Homo sapiens: one gene and its partner. The protein of the gene in region 1 interacts with the protein of each later gene in a pairwise test. Each region holds a gene or a part of one and is shown in the gene's direction. Other genes may lie near its edges.

The links. The genes of interacting proteins can lie anywhere in the genome.
Region 2: the proteins of MINPP1 (region 1) and SOX4 interact in a two-hybrid assay, tested with the Homo sapiens proteins (one study listed by BioGRID).

The regions. Positions count from the first base shown.
Region 1 is NC_000010.11:87,549,861-87,554,065, forward strand, and holds the end of MINPP1 (multiple inositol polyphosphate phosphatase 1 isoform 1 precursor), read left to right. Parts: intron 1-2,221; coding exon 2,222-2,618; 3' UTR 2,619-3,601; downstream 3,602-4,205. UniProt on the Homo sapiens protein: Multiple inositol polyphosphate phosphatase that hydrolyzes 1D-myo-inositol 1,3,4,5,6-pentakisphosphate (InsP5[2OH]) and 1D-myo-inositol hexakisphosphate (InsP6) to a range of less phosphorylated inositol phosphates.
Region 2 is NC_000006.12:21,589,554-21,596,750, forward strand, and holds the start of SOX4 (transcription factor SOX-4), read left to right. Parts: upstream 1-4,197; 5' UTR 4,198-4,981; coding exon 4,982-6,406; 3' UTR 6,407-7,197. UniProt on the Homo sapiens protein: Transcriptional activator that binds with high affinity to the T-cell enhancer motif 5'-AACAAAG-3' motif. Required for IL17A-producing Vgamma2-positive gamma-delta T-cell maturation and development, via binding to regulator loci of RORC to modulate expression.

The DNA.
Region 1 (4,205 bases):
AACCAGTATATTTATATTACTTGTTTTTCTTTTAACTTGTATCCTTATTAAATTTCATTATTTAGATGGTGACAGTAGTGTTAGTTTAGACTTGAATATACTCAGATGTATAAAGGGGCCAGGCAAGTAACAAAGGAATGAATTCATCCTATGTTAGACAATGTGGAATGATACATGTGCTGTGTAACAAGTATATGCCCTCTCTACAGGGTGGGTAACCTTATTCCTGTTTAGCTGATTATGGTCTTACGGGTATATATGGACTTGTGTTGCCAGATCTTTCAGATTTCTAAGAAGAGCAAAAATCTGGATTTTTAAGAATCTTAAACCTCTCAATTTTTAAATACTGATAAGTAATGTAAAATTTAAAAATACTTATGCTGGTCAAACTAAATATGGCTGTGTTCTGAATGCTACCGCTTGGTAACTTCAGACCTAAGAGATTGCTTCTTGGAAATAAATACAGGTTTTAGGTATTTTAGATGACCTAATTAAAGTATACCAGTTATGAAGAGAGGCTTGGTAAGCGCCTGTTGATGAATGGCTTTTAAGTTTTACACCTTTTAGAGAATATTAATCTGAAAGTAGTGAATAATTGTCTTTTAGTTTGTTTTGAAATACTGTTAACAGTTTCAGTGTACTTTTTGAGTATATATTTCTAGCGTACTCTTATATATGGAAGTTATTCTGCTCCTTATTTTTTCTTACATGCTTTTCTGTAGTTATTTTGATATGAATTGTTTTCCTGAACATTTAGAAAAAGGTTTGTGTCAGATTGCTTGTCTCATCTCACAGAGCCCCCCCGTTCTGGTGTGTGTACTGTTCAGAAGTATGATGGGTTGTTTTCTGAGATTTCCTGGCTCTGTTCCCCTCCCCCCACTTTCATCTAGACTTACTTTTTCCTTTATCTCTTCTGTCCCTCTCCTGCTTGGCTGAAATTCCACTCCCAGCAGTTTCTCTAGTGTGAGCCCTGTGTTTGGAGAGTTCACAGGAGCTCCAGGATTCTCTAGCCCCGGGCCTCACTGTAGGCCTGCCTTGCACTCACCAAGTCCTGGAGAGGACTAAATACTTCCCAATTTCAGCTGCTATATCCAGTTCACACACAGCGCTTCCAGTGAATACCTGTGGGCTGTTTGGGATTCTCTTGTTCTCAGATTGCTCAGATGCTCTGTGGCTTCTCTCTGCTTTCTTCAACAGATACTGATAATATCTAGTGCTTGAGGTTGGATGCTACTTGGAGTGGTTCATAGAGAATACTTTTCCACCTAGTTATGTTGTAAATGTTTCCCATGGGTTTTTGGATTTGCTATCTGCTTGCTGTGTTTGTGTGTGTTGGGGGCAGAGGGAATCAGGAAGGTCTAGAACTGCTGCTTCTATCCTCCCAGAAAATCCAGATGCACTAAATTGATAACCTGATGAGTGGTGGCAAAAAGTCAGACAGTCATGTTTGAATAGGTTTACAAATTATATTTAAGAAAAATATTATTTTTTCTATAAAGGTAGGGAAAAGGCTAAGCAGTCATTCACTGCTTCTTAATAAAAATTCTTTACCAGAAAAAAAAAATCATAGAAAACTTCAAGAAAAAGAATTGATTCAGCTCAGTGTTGAAAGTGGTTTGTATTCCTGGCACTTTATACTCCCACTCCCAACCAGAGACACATTGTTTCAGCCACAATAGGTTACATCACTAACCTTTTTTGGGTTTTGTAAACCATTAAGGATTACATGAATTACCATGTAATCCTGTTCAGACTTGGTAAGACATTTACTGAATATTGCTTGTTCTTATTCCCTAGATATAAATAAAATAATAACACTTTATTCAAAAGAGCTCCATGGAGTAATATTTACTAAGGGCCAGGTTGCTCAGTTTTATGCACAGAAAGGCAATACAGTGTTGAAATACACATCTGTTTCAAGTTCCCATATCTATAAGACACTTCTCTCTCTTTAAACTTAAAGGAAAATATGTATGCACACTTATATGGATTTACAACAGTACAGTGATCTGAATTTCGGAACTTAACTTTCAGTATAAAAAGTTTAGTTCTCTGCCACACGGAATTTCAGCCGTATGCTTGTGTAATGTATATAAAGATTTAAAAAAATAGATGGGATTATTTAAACTAAAAAAAGATGTGGAAGTTACTCCTAAGTGTAAATACTATGTTCTATGACATTAATATATATACCTTATTTTCTCTTAATTTCTATTTGAAGGTCTCAGCCAATTTCTTCTCCAGTCATCCTCCAGTTTGGTCATGCAGAGACTCTTCTTCCACTGCTTTCTCTCATGGGCTACTTCAAAGACAAGGAACCCCTAACAGCGTACAATTACAAAAAACAAATGCATCGGAAGTTCCGAAGTGGTCTCATTGTACCTTATGCCTCGAACCTGATATTTGTGCTTTACCACTGTGAAAATGCTAAGACTCCTAAAGAACAATTCCGAGTGCAGATGTTATTAAATGAAAAGGTGTTACCTTTGGCTTACTCACAAGAAACTGTTTCATTTTATGAAGATCTGAAGAACCACTACAAGGACATCCTTCAGAGTTGTCAAACCAGTGAAGAATGTGAATTAGCAAGGGCTAACAGTACATCTGATGAACTATGAGTAACTGAAGAACATTTTTAATTCTTTAGGAATCTGCAATGAGTGATTACATGCTTGTAATAGGTAGGCAATTCCTTGATTACAGGAAGCTTTTATATTACTTGAGTATTTCTGTCTTTTCACAGAAAAACATTGGGTTTCTCTCTGGGTTTGGACATGAAATGTAAGAAAAGATTTTTCACTGGAGCAGCTCTCTTAAGGAGAAACAAATCTATTTAGAGAAACAGCTGGCCCTGCAAATGTTTACAGAAATGAAATTCTTCCTACTTATATAAGAAATCTCACACTGAGATAGAATTGTGATTTCATAATAACACTTGAAAAGTGCTGGAGTAACAAAATATCTCAGTTGGACCATCCTTAACTTGATTGAACTGTCTAGGAACTTTACAGATTGTTCTGCAGTTCTCTCTTCTTTTCCTCAGGTAGGACAGCTCTAGCATTTTCTTAATCAGGAATATTGTGGTAAGCTGGGAGTATCACTCTGGAAGAAAGTAACATCTCCAGATGAGAATTTGAAACAAGAAACAGAGTGTTGTAAAAGGACACCTTCACTGAAGCAAGTCGGAAAGTACAATGAAAATAAATATTTTTGGTATTTATTTATGAAATATTTGAACATTTTTTCAATAATTCCTTTTTACTTCTAGGAAGTCTCAAAAGACCATCTTAAATTATTATATGTTTGGACAATTAGCAACAAGTCAGATAGTTAGAATCGAAGTTTTTCAAATCCATTGCTTAGCTAACTTTTTCATTCTGTCACTTGGCTTCGATTTTTATATTTTCCTATTATATGAAATGTATCTTTTGGTTGTTTGATTTTTCTTTCTTTCTTTGTAAATAGTTCTGAGTTCTGTCAAATGCCGTGAAAGTATTTGCTATAATAAAGAAAATTCTTGTGACTTTACTACCAGGACTTTTCTCTTCCCCATGTCAAAATACAATCAATAATTGATGGTAAAAGTTTGGAAATTCAAGCAGATTTGACTCACCTGGCAATTTTTTTTTATTTTTTATTTTTGTTATACTTTTAAGTTCTAGGGTACATGTGCACAACATGCAGTTTTGTTACATATGTATACATGCACCATGTTGGTATGTTGCACCCATTAACTTGTCATTTACATTAGGTATATCTCCTAATGCTATTCCTCCTCCCTCCCCCTACCCCACGACAGGCCCCAATGTGTGATGTTCCCCTTCCTGTGTCCAAGTGTTCTCATTGTTCAGTTCCCACCTATGAGTGAAAACATGCGGTGTTTGGTTTTTTGTTCTTGCGATAGTTTGCTGAGAATGATGGTTTCCAGCTTCATCCATGTCCCTACAAAGGACATGAACTCATCGTTTTTTATGGCTGCATAGTATTCCATGGTGTATATGTGCCACATTTTCTTAATCCAGTCTATCATTGATGGACATTTGGGTTGGTTCCAAGTCTTTGCTATTGTCACCTGGCAATTTAAAGCAATTTTCTTTGAATAGAAATTTCCTCAAATAATGGATTTGTTAATGCATTTTATTTTAATTCATATACACCTTAAAGGTAATATGTTTCAAAGGAAAATCTTAGATTTTTCTTAAAAA
Region 2 (7,197 bases), on another chromosome or scaffold:
CCTGCAAACATTCGTCTTCTGCTTGTTTTCTTGAGAAAATCGAAGGAAAGGAATAATGAGTTGGCATTGGCATGAACAGCTTAAGCCTACTGTGTGCTAGTCACTGGTTATGAGAGGAAAATGGTACAATTGTTAGAAATGCAGGTTTCTTAACTCTTAGCTTATTCTAGTGATAAAAATAAATGCTAGGTTTCATTTACCCCAGAATCCTATTTTGATATTTTGCAAATATGAGTTATTTCCATATATTATTTTTCAATGCACGCACCCCCACCCCCATTACGCGCTGAGCCCAGTTACAATGCAATGTCATCAGCCCAAAAGGATGAAGTGCAAGTTATGTTTGTCTACTTGACTGAGAAGTAAATCAGCCTCACATGGAGGCTTCTTTTCCATAAAGTGTGGAACCAAAAAAACTGGCGCCTTTCAGTTGACAAAGGCCAATGACATCAGATTTCCCAGGGCTTCTTCCTTGTCAGGTAAAGTAACAACTACACAGTTTTTCCTCCTCTTTATTTTATTTGAACTGAATACTTGTCAGGTCTGACTAGCGCCTACAATCATAGTTTCTATAACCAAGGCAAGGCAAAATCTTGCAAATCAGTGCAAATCCAGATTTGTTAAACTAATTTCCATTCAGGTCCCTCCCTCCATGCCAAAGGAATATATTAAGCAGTGGAATAGAATCTTATTTCATCTATGCCCCATACCATTGTATGGATGTGAGATTTTATGTTGTGTAGATGTGTGAGAGCAGAAGAAATGCATTAGCAGATATTACACTTACATCTCAAATGGAATTCCATCATTTAAGGGAATAAAATAAAATACCTAATTCAAAATTGGAAATGTCTAACATCATTGCTAACAAAGACAGTTTATTATTCTAAACCAGGATTTTTTTTTTCTGCAAAATTATCTTGGCTTTCTCTTAATACAGCTAAAAGACTAGCATTAAGAATTACTTCATGTACTGCAAAGCCAGCAGAGGGAACACTGCGTACTGATTTAGTAGGGGCCACCAAATATCTGGTATTTGGGGAAAAAAATGTCAGTAATGGAGAACTGATTACAGAGCATATGAAGTTAGGGAATGAGAAGGGAGAAATCTTTTCTCATTATTTGGTATTGAGAGGTCCAACACATTCCAGTGTGCACACACTTAGTTGGTCACAAAGATGACTTTAATAAAAGGGCATTCGTCATATGTTTTCTTACATTCTAAGAGAACTAACCCATTAGAACAGATCTATTTCAGAAGTCTAGGCACTTGTGTAATATATAAATATATATGCAGTAATTATAAAGTCAATGGAAGTTACTGATACCATATTTCATCAAGTCTAAGAGGAAATTTTTCTTTTCATTTCAACTCTTCCTGAAATAAGGAGGCATCCTACATCTAGGGGGATATCACAGTTTCATTGGCAGCTTTCTTCCTTGGTGGAATGTAATATAATGGTGTGTCTTAAAATTTGTTGGATTTGTTGAAATACAGAAAATACATGTAACAAAAGAATGAGGCCAGTGGCTGTGTTTTAGTACACCCTTTAAAAAATCCATGTGTTTTAAGCAGAAACATATATGACTGCTTTAACTTCCACTCTTCCCTATCATATTCGATGATGGAAGCATAAATGACTGAGAAATATAATCAATAATGTTGATACTCAACTTGACTGAATTATCAAACTAGCTACACCCTCAAATCATTAGTTAGTACAAATTCAAAAATAAATATTCTTTTTTATTCTAGTGAAAATATTGATCTTATAGATAATAGCCCTCTTAAAATAATTTTTTTTTGTCAGATTGGTAACATTTAAGGATGTGTTTCTATGCACACCAGAGAAAATGTAGTATATAACACAGCAACACTGTTATGCAAAAAAGGTGCCTGTGTGTTTTTGGTTTGGGTTTTTCTTTTTTTAAGGATTTGTTTCTCCTTTTTTAAAAAAATTATGTAATACAAGTAGCTAATCGTCAAAAATTATTTGCTTTTACCCACAAAAACAGTTTTGCTTGTGGTTGATCCTTACAGATCCAGTCAGATGGCTACATAGGGTGTTCTTTCCAGTAAAATTCTAAGTCTGACAACCTGGGCCTATTGCCAGCCTACATACTTTAAAAGTTTGACAAGATACATAGAAATTTACTACCCAGCACTAGTTTAATCTGAATCAAAAGCCGACTTAATTATTTTGGATTGACTTTACCTAACCACTTATGGTTAGCCTGAAGAATATTAGTTTCCTATTATAGTGTTAAGGAAAGCTGATTTTTACTACAATTCTAATTTTCAGACACTGGAAAACAAGTAATTTCTGTAGCCAACGTTTATTTTGAATACCTTGGCATCCTTTCTTTGCCACATTCTTCTTAGTATTCTTCATGGAGTTCCTTTCTTTTAAAATCAATGGAATGGCAGGGTTGCCACTATTGTCCTTCTATGGTTCACATCAATGATCTGTGATTACTTTTTTTTTTTTTTTGAGATAGTCACACGCTATCACCCACACTGGAGTGCAGTGGCTCAATCTTAGCTCACTGCAACCTCCTGGGTTCAAGCAATTCTCCCGCCTTAGCTTCTCGAGTAGCTGGAATTACAGGCGCATGCATCCCTGCCCAGCTAATTTTTTAATTTTTTAATTTTTAGTAGAGACAGGGTTTCACCATGTTGACCAGGCTGGTCTCGAACTCCTGACCTGAAGTGATCCACCCACCTTAGCCTCCCAAAGTGCTGGGATTACAGGCGTGAGCCACCGCGTCCTGCCTGTTATTACTTTTTTACATAAGTGGCTATTCTGTTTTAGCCTCTTGAACAACATGCAGCTTTTACTAGGAGTGTGTCTGGCATTTGAATTAGAAAGGAAGATATTAGTATTCATTGAGGGCTTACAATACATCAGGTGCTTCATAGTCACAAATTCATTGAACCCTCACAACAACCCTCTATAAAGTAGCTCCTAGTGTTCCCATATAATAGATGAGGAAAACTGAGACTTGGCCACATCCCCATAGTTACAAACCATTAAGAAGGATTAGCAGCCAGGTCTACTATGAATCCGGAGGCCCCATTCTCTTCTGCTACCAGTTATCACCTCCTTCTACAGTTTCTCTTTGCCTTGGTTTTTCAGTTCCCTTCGATTCAAGTAACAAGAGGAAATATATAAGAAGGAAAGGAGGAAGATGGCTTTGGGAGGAGGAGAGGGAAGAGAGTGAAGCAATCTTTAATTTTGAAAACAGGGAAAACAAATATTTAGAAAGTAAAACCGATTTCCATCCTTTACATGCCATTATACATCCTATACAAAACTCTGGAAATCTGCCTATTGAGGTAATTACGGAGCACTACCTAATGTGTTTCAAGGGAAAGCTCCCCTGTTTGGGCTATGCAGGATTTACAGGGAGTTTAAATCATTAAATAACCATAGTTGACCCTTGCTTGGTTAAGAGAGTAAGCAATTATTGCAAAGTCCTCTTCCCTGCCTTCCACAAACAGCACAAAAACGGTTCTGAAGGGATTTACACAATACATCAACATCTGTGCTGTACCTAGAGTTGTTAAAATAATTGTGATGACAGGTGTCTAGGTACCACTTTCTTAATGGTTTTCAATATCCATTGATTTATTGTTTTGTGGCTTTCTCTTCCCCTTTACAGCTTTGGCTTTAAGAAAGAGCTGGGGAACAGATTTTGCACCAGAGGCTGATTCTTTATTCCAATGCTGAAAAGAACTAATAAAAATAATCACTTGGCTTTTAAGCAGAAAGCTTCCATTTACAGTATTTCACCCTTACCCCGCCCCGTTCCAAGCCCCTTGTTATCTAACATAATGGTTAGAATACATTTCCGTCTCTCCCCTTAATAATTTCATGCATTAACATCCTCTTCACACACTATACACACACGCACGCGCGCACACACACGCGCGCGCACACACACAGCAAAAGGAAAAAAGAGGCAGCAGAAATCTCAGCTGTACTTCTAGCCCTTTTAAAAAGTTTGCTCTGTAAATTGGAATGAGGTCAGATTTGGAGCTTCTCATTGCACGCGGAGATTATTATTGCATCGGGTTCCAAGCCAATGGGAAGCCCGGGGGAGGGGTTTGGCATGAGGAAGCGTTGGTTACAGCAGCTGATTGGCTGCAGCCAAGACTGTGAAAGGATAAAGAGGCGCGAGGCGGAATTGGGGTCTGCTCTAAGCTGCAGCAAGAGAAACTGTGTGTGAGGGGAAGAGGCCTGTTTCGCTGTCGGGTCTCTAGTTCTTGCACGCTCTTTAAGAGTCTGCACTGGAGGAACTCCTGCCATTACCAGCTCCCTTCTTGCAGAAGGGAGGGGGAAACATACATTTATTCATGCCAGTCTGTTGCATGCAGGCTTTTTGGCTTCCTACCTTGCAACAAAATAATTGCACCAACTCCTTAGTGCCGATTCCGCCCACAGAGAGTCCTGGAGCCACAGTCTTTTTTGCTTTGCATTGTAGGAGAGGGACTAAGTGCTAGAGACTATGTCGCTTTCCTGAGCTACCGAGAGCGCTCGTGAACTGGAATCAACTGCTTCAGGGAAAAAGAAAAAAAAAAAAAAAAGACTTGCCTGGGAGGCCGCGAGAAACTTGCATTGGAAGCTTCAGCAACCAGCATTCGAGAAACTCCTCTCTACTTTAGCACGGTCTCCAGACTCAGCCGAGAGACAGCAAACTGCAGCGCGGTGAGAGAGCGAGAGAGAGGGAGAGAGAGACTCTCCAGCCTGGGAACTATAACTCCTCTGCGAGAGGCGGAGAACTCCTTCCCCAAATCTTTTGGGGACTTTTCTCTCTTTACCCACCTCCGCCCCTGCGAGGAGTTGAGGGGCCAGTTCGGCCGCCGCGCGCGTCTTCCCGTTCGGCGTGTGCTTGGCCCGGGGAACCGGGAGGGCCCGGCGATCGCGCGGCGGCCGCCGCGAGGGTGTGAGCGCGCGTGGGCGCCCGCCGAGCCGAGGCCATGGTGCAGCAAACCAACAATGCCGAGAACACGGAAGCGCTGCTGGCCGGCGAGAGCTCGGACTCGGGCGCCGGCCTCGAGCTGGGAATCGCCTCCTCCCCCACGCCCGGCTCCACCGCCTCCACGGGCGGCAAGGCCGACGACCCGAGCTGGTGCAAGACCCCGAGTGGGCACATCAAGCGACCCATGAACGCCTTCATGGTGTGGTCGCAGATCGAGCGGCGCAAGATCATGGAGCAGTCGCCCGACATGCACAACGCCGAGATCTCCAAGCGGCTGGGCAAACGCTGGAAGCTGCTCAAAGACAGCGACAAGATCCCTTTCATTCGAGAGGCGGAGCGGCTGCGCCTCAAGCACATGGCTGACTACCCCGACTACAAGTACCGGCCCAGGAAGAAGGTGAAGTCCGGCAACGCCAACTCCAGCTCCTCGGCCGCCGCCTCCTCCAAGCCGGGGGAGAAGGGAGACAAGGTCGGTGGCAGTGGCGGGGGCGGCCATGGGGGCGGCGGCGGCGGCGGGAGCAGCAACGCGGGGGGAGGAGGCGGCGGTGCGAGTGGCGGCGGCGCCAACTCCAAACCGGCGCAGAAAAAGAGCTGCGGCTCCAAAGTGGCGGGCGGCGCGGGCGGTGGGGTTAGCAAACCGCACGCCAAGCTCATCCTGGCAGGCGGCGGCGGCGGCGGGAAAGCAGCGGCTGCCGCCGCCGCCTCCTTCGCCGCCGAACAGGCGGGGGCCGCCGCCCTGCTGCCCCTGGGCGCCGCCGCCGACCACCACTCGCTGTACAAGGCGCGGACTCCCAGCGCCTCGGCCTCCGCCTCCTCGGCAGCCTCGGCCTCCGCAGCGCTCGCGGCCCCGGGCAAGCACCTGGCGGAGAAGAAGGTGAAGCGCGTCTACCTGTTCGGCGGCCTGGGCACGTCGTCGTCGCCCGTGGGCGGCGTGGGCGCGGGAGCCGACCCCAGCGACCCCCTGGGCCTGTACGAGGAGGAGGGCGCGGGCTGCTCGCCCGACGCGCCCAGCCTGAGCGGCCGCAGCAGCGCCGCCTCGTCCCCCGCCGCCGGCCGCTCGCCCGCCGACCACCGCGGCTACGCCAGCCTGCGCGCCGCCTCGCCCGCCCCGTCCAGCGCGCCCTCGCACGCGTCCTCCTCGGCCTCGTCCCACTCCTCCTCTTCCTCCTCCTCGGGCTCCTCGTCCTCCGACGACGAGTTCGAAGACGACCTGCTCGACCTGAACCCCAGCTCAAACTTTGAGAGCATGTCCCTGGGCAGCTTCAGTTCGTCGTCGGCGCTCGACCGGGACCTGGATTTTAACTTCGAGCCCGGCTCCGGCTCGCACTTCGAGTTCCCGGACTACTGCACGCCCGAGGTGAGCGAGATGATCTCGGGAGACTGGCTCGAGTCCAGCATCTCCAACCTGGTTTTCACCTACTGAAGGGCGCGCAGGCAGGGAGAAGGGCCGGGGGGGGTAGGAGAGGAGAAAAAAAAAGTGAAAAAAAGAAACGAAAAGGACAGACGAAGAGTTTAAAGAGAAAAGGGAAAAAAGAAAGAAAAAGTAAGCAGGGCTGGCTTCGCCCGCGTTCTCGTCGTCGGATCAAGGAGCGCGGCGGCGTTTTGGACCCGCGCTCCCATCCCCCACCTTCCCGGGCCGGGGACCCACTCTGCCCAGCCGGAGGGACGCGGAGGAGGAAGAGGGTAGACAGGGGCGACCTGTGATTGTTGTTATTGATGTTGTTGTTGATGGCAAAAAAAAAAAAGCGACTTCGAGTTTGCTCCCCTTTGCTTGAAGAGACCCCCTCCCCCTTCCAACGAGCTTCCGGACTTGTCTGCACCCCCAGCAAGAAGGCGAGTTAGTTTTCTAGAGACTTGAAGGAGTCTCCCCCTTCCTGCATCACCACCTTGGTTTTGTTTTATTTTGCTTCTTGGTCAAGAAAGGAGGGGAGAACCCAGCGCACCCCTCCCCCCCTTTTTTTAAACGCGTGATGAAGACAGAAGGCTCCGGGGTGACGAATTTGGCCGATGGCAGATGTTTTGGGGGAACGCCGGGACTGAGAGACTCCACGCAGGCGAATTCCCGTTTGGGGCTTTTTTTTCCTCCCTCTTTTCCCCTTGCCCCCTCTGCAGCCGGAGGAGGAGATGTTGAGGGGAGGAGGCCAGCCAGTGTGACCGGCGCTAGGAAATGACCCGAGAACCCCGTTGGAAGCGCAGCAGCGGGAGCTAGGGGCG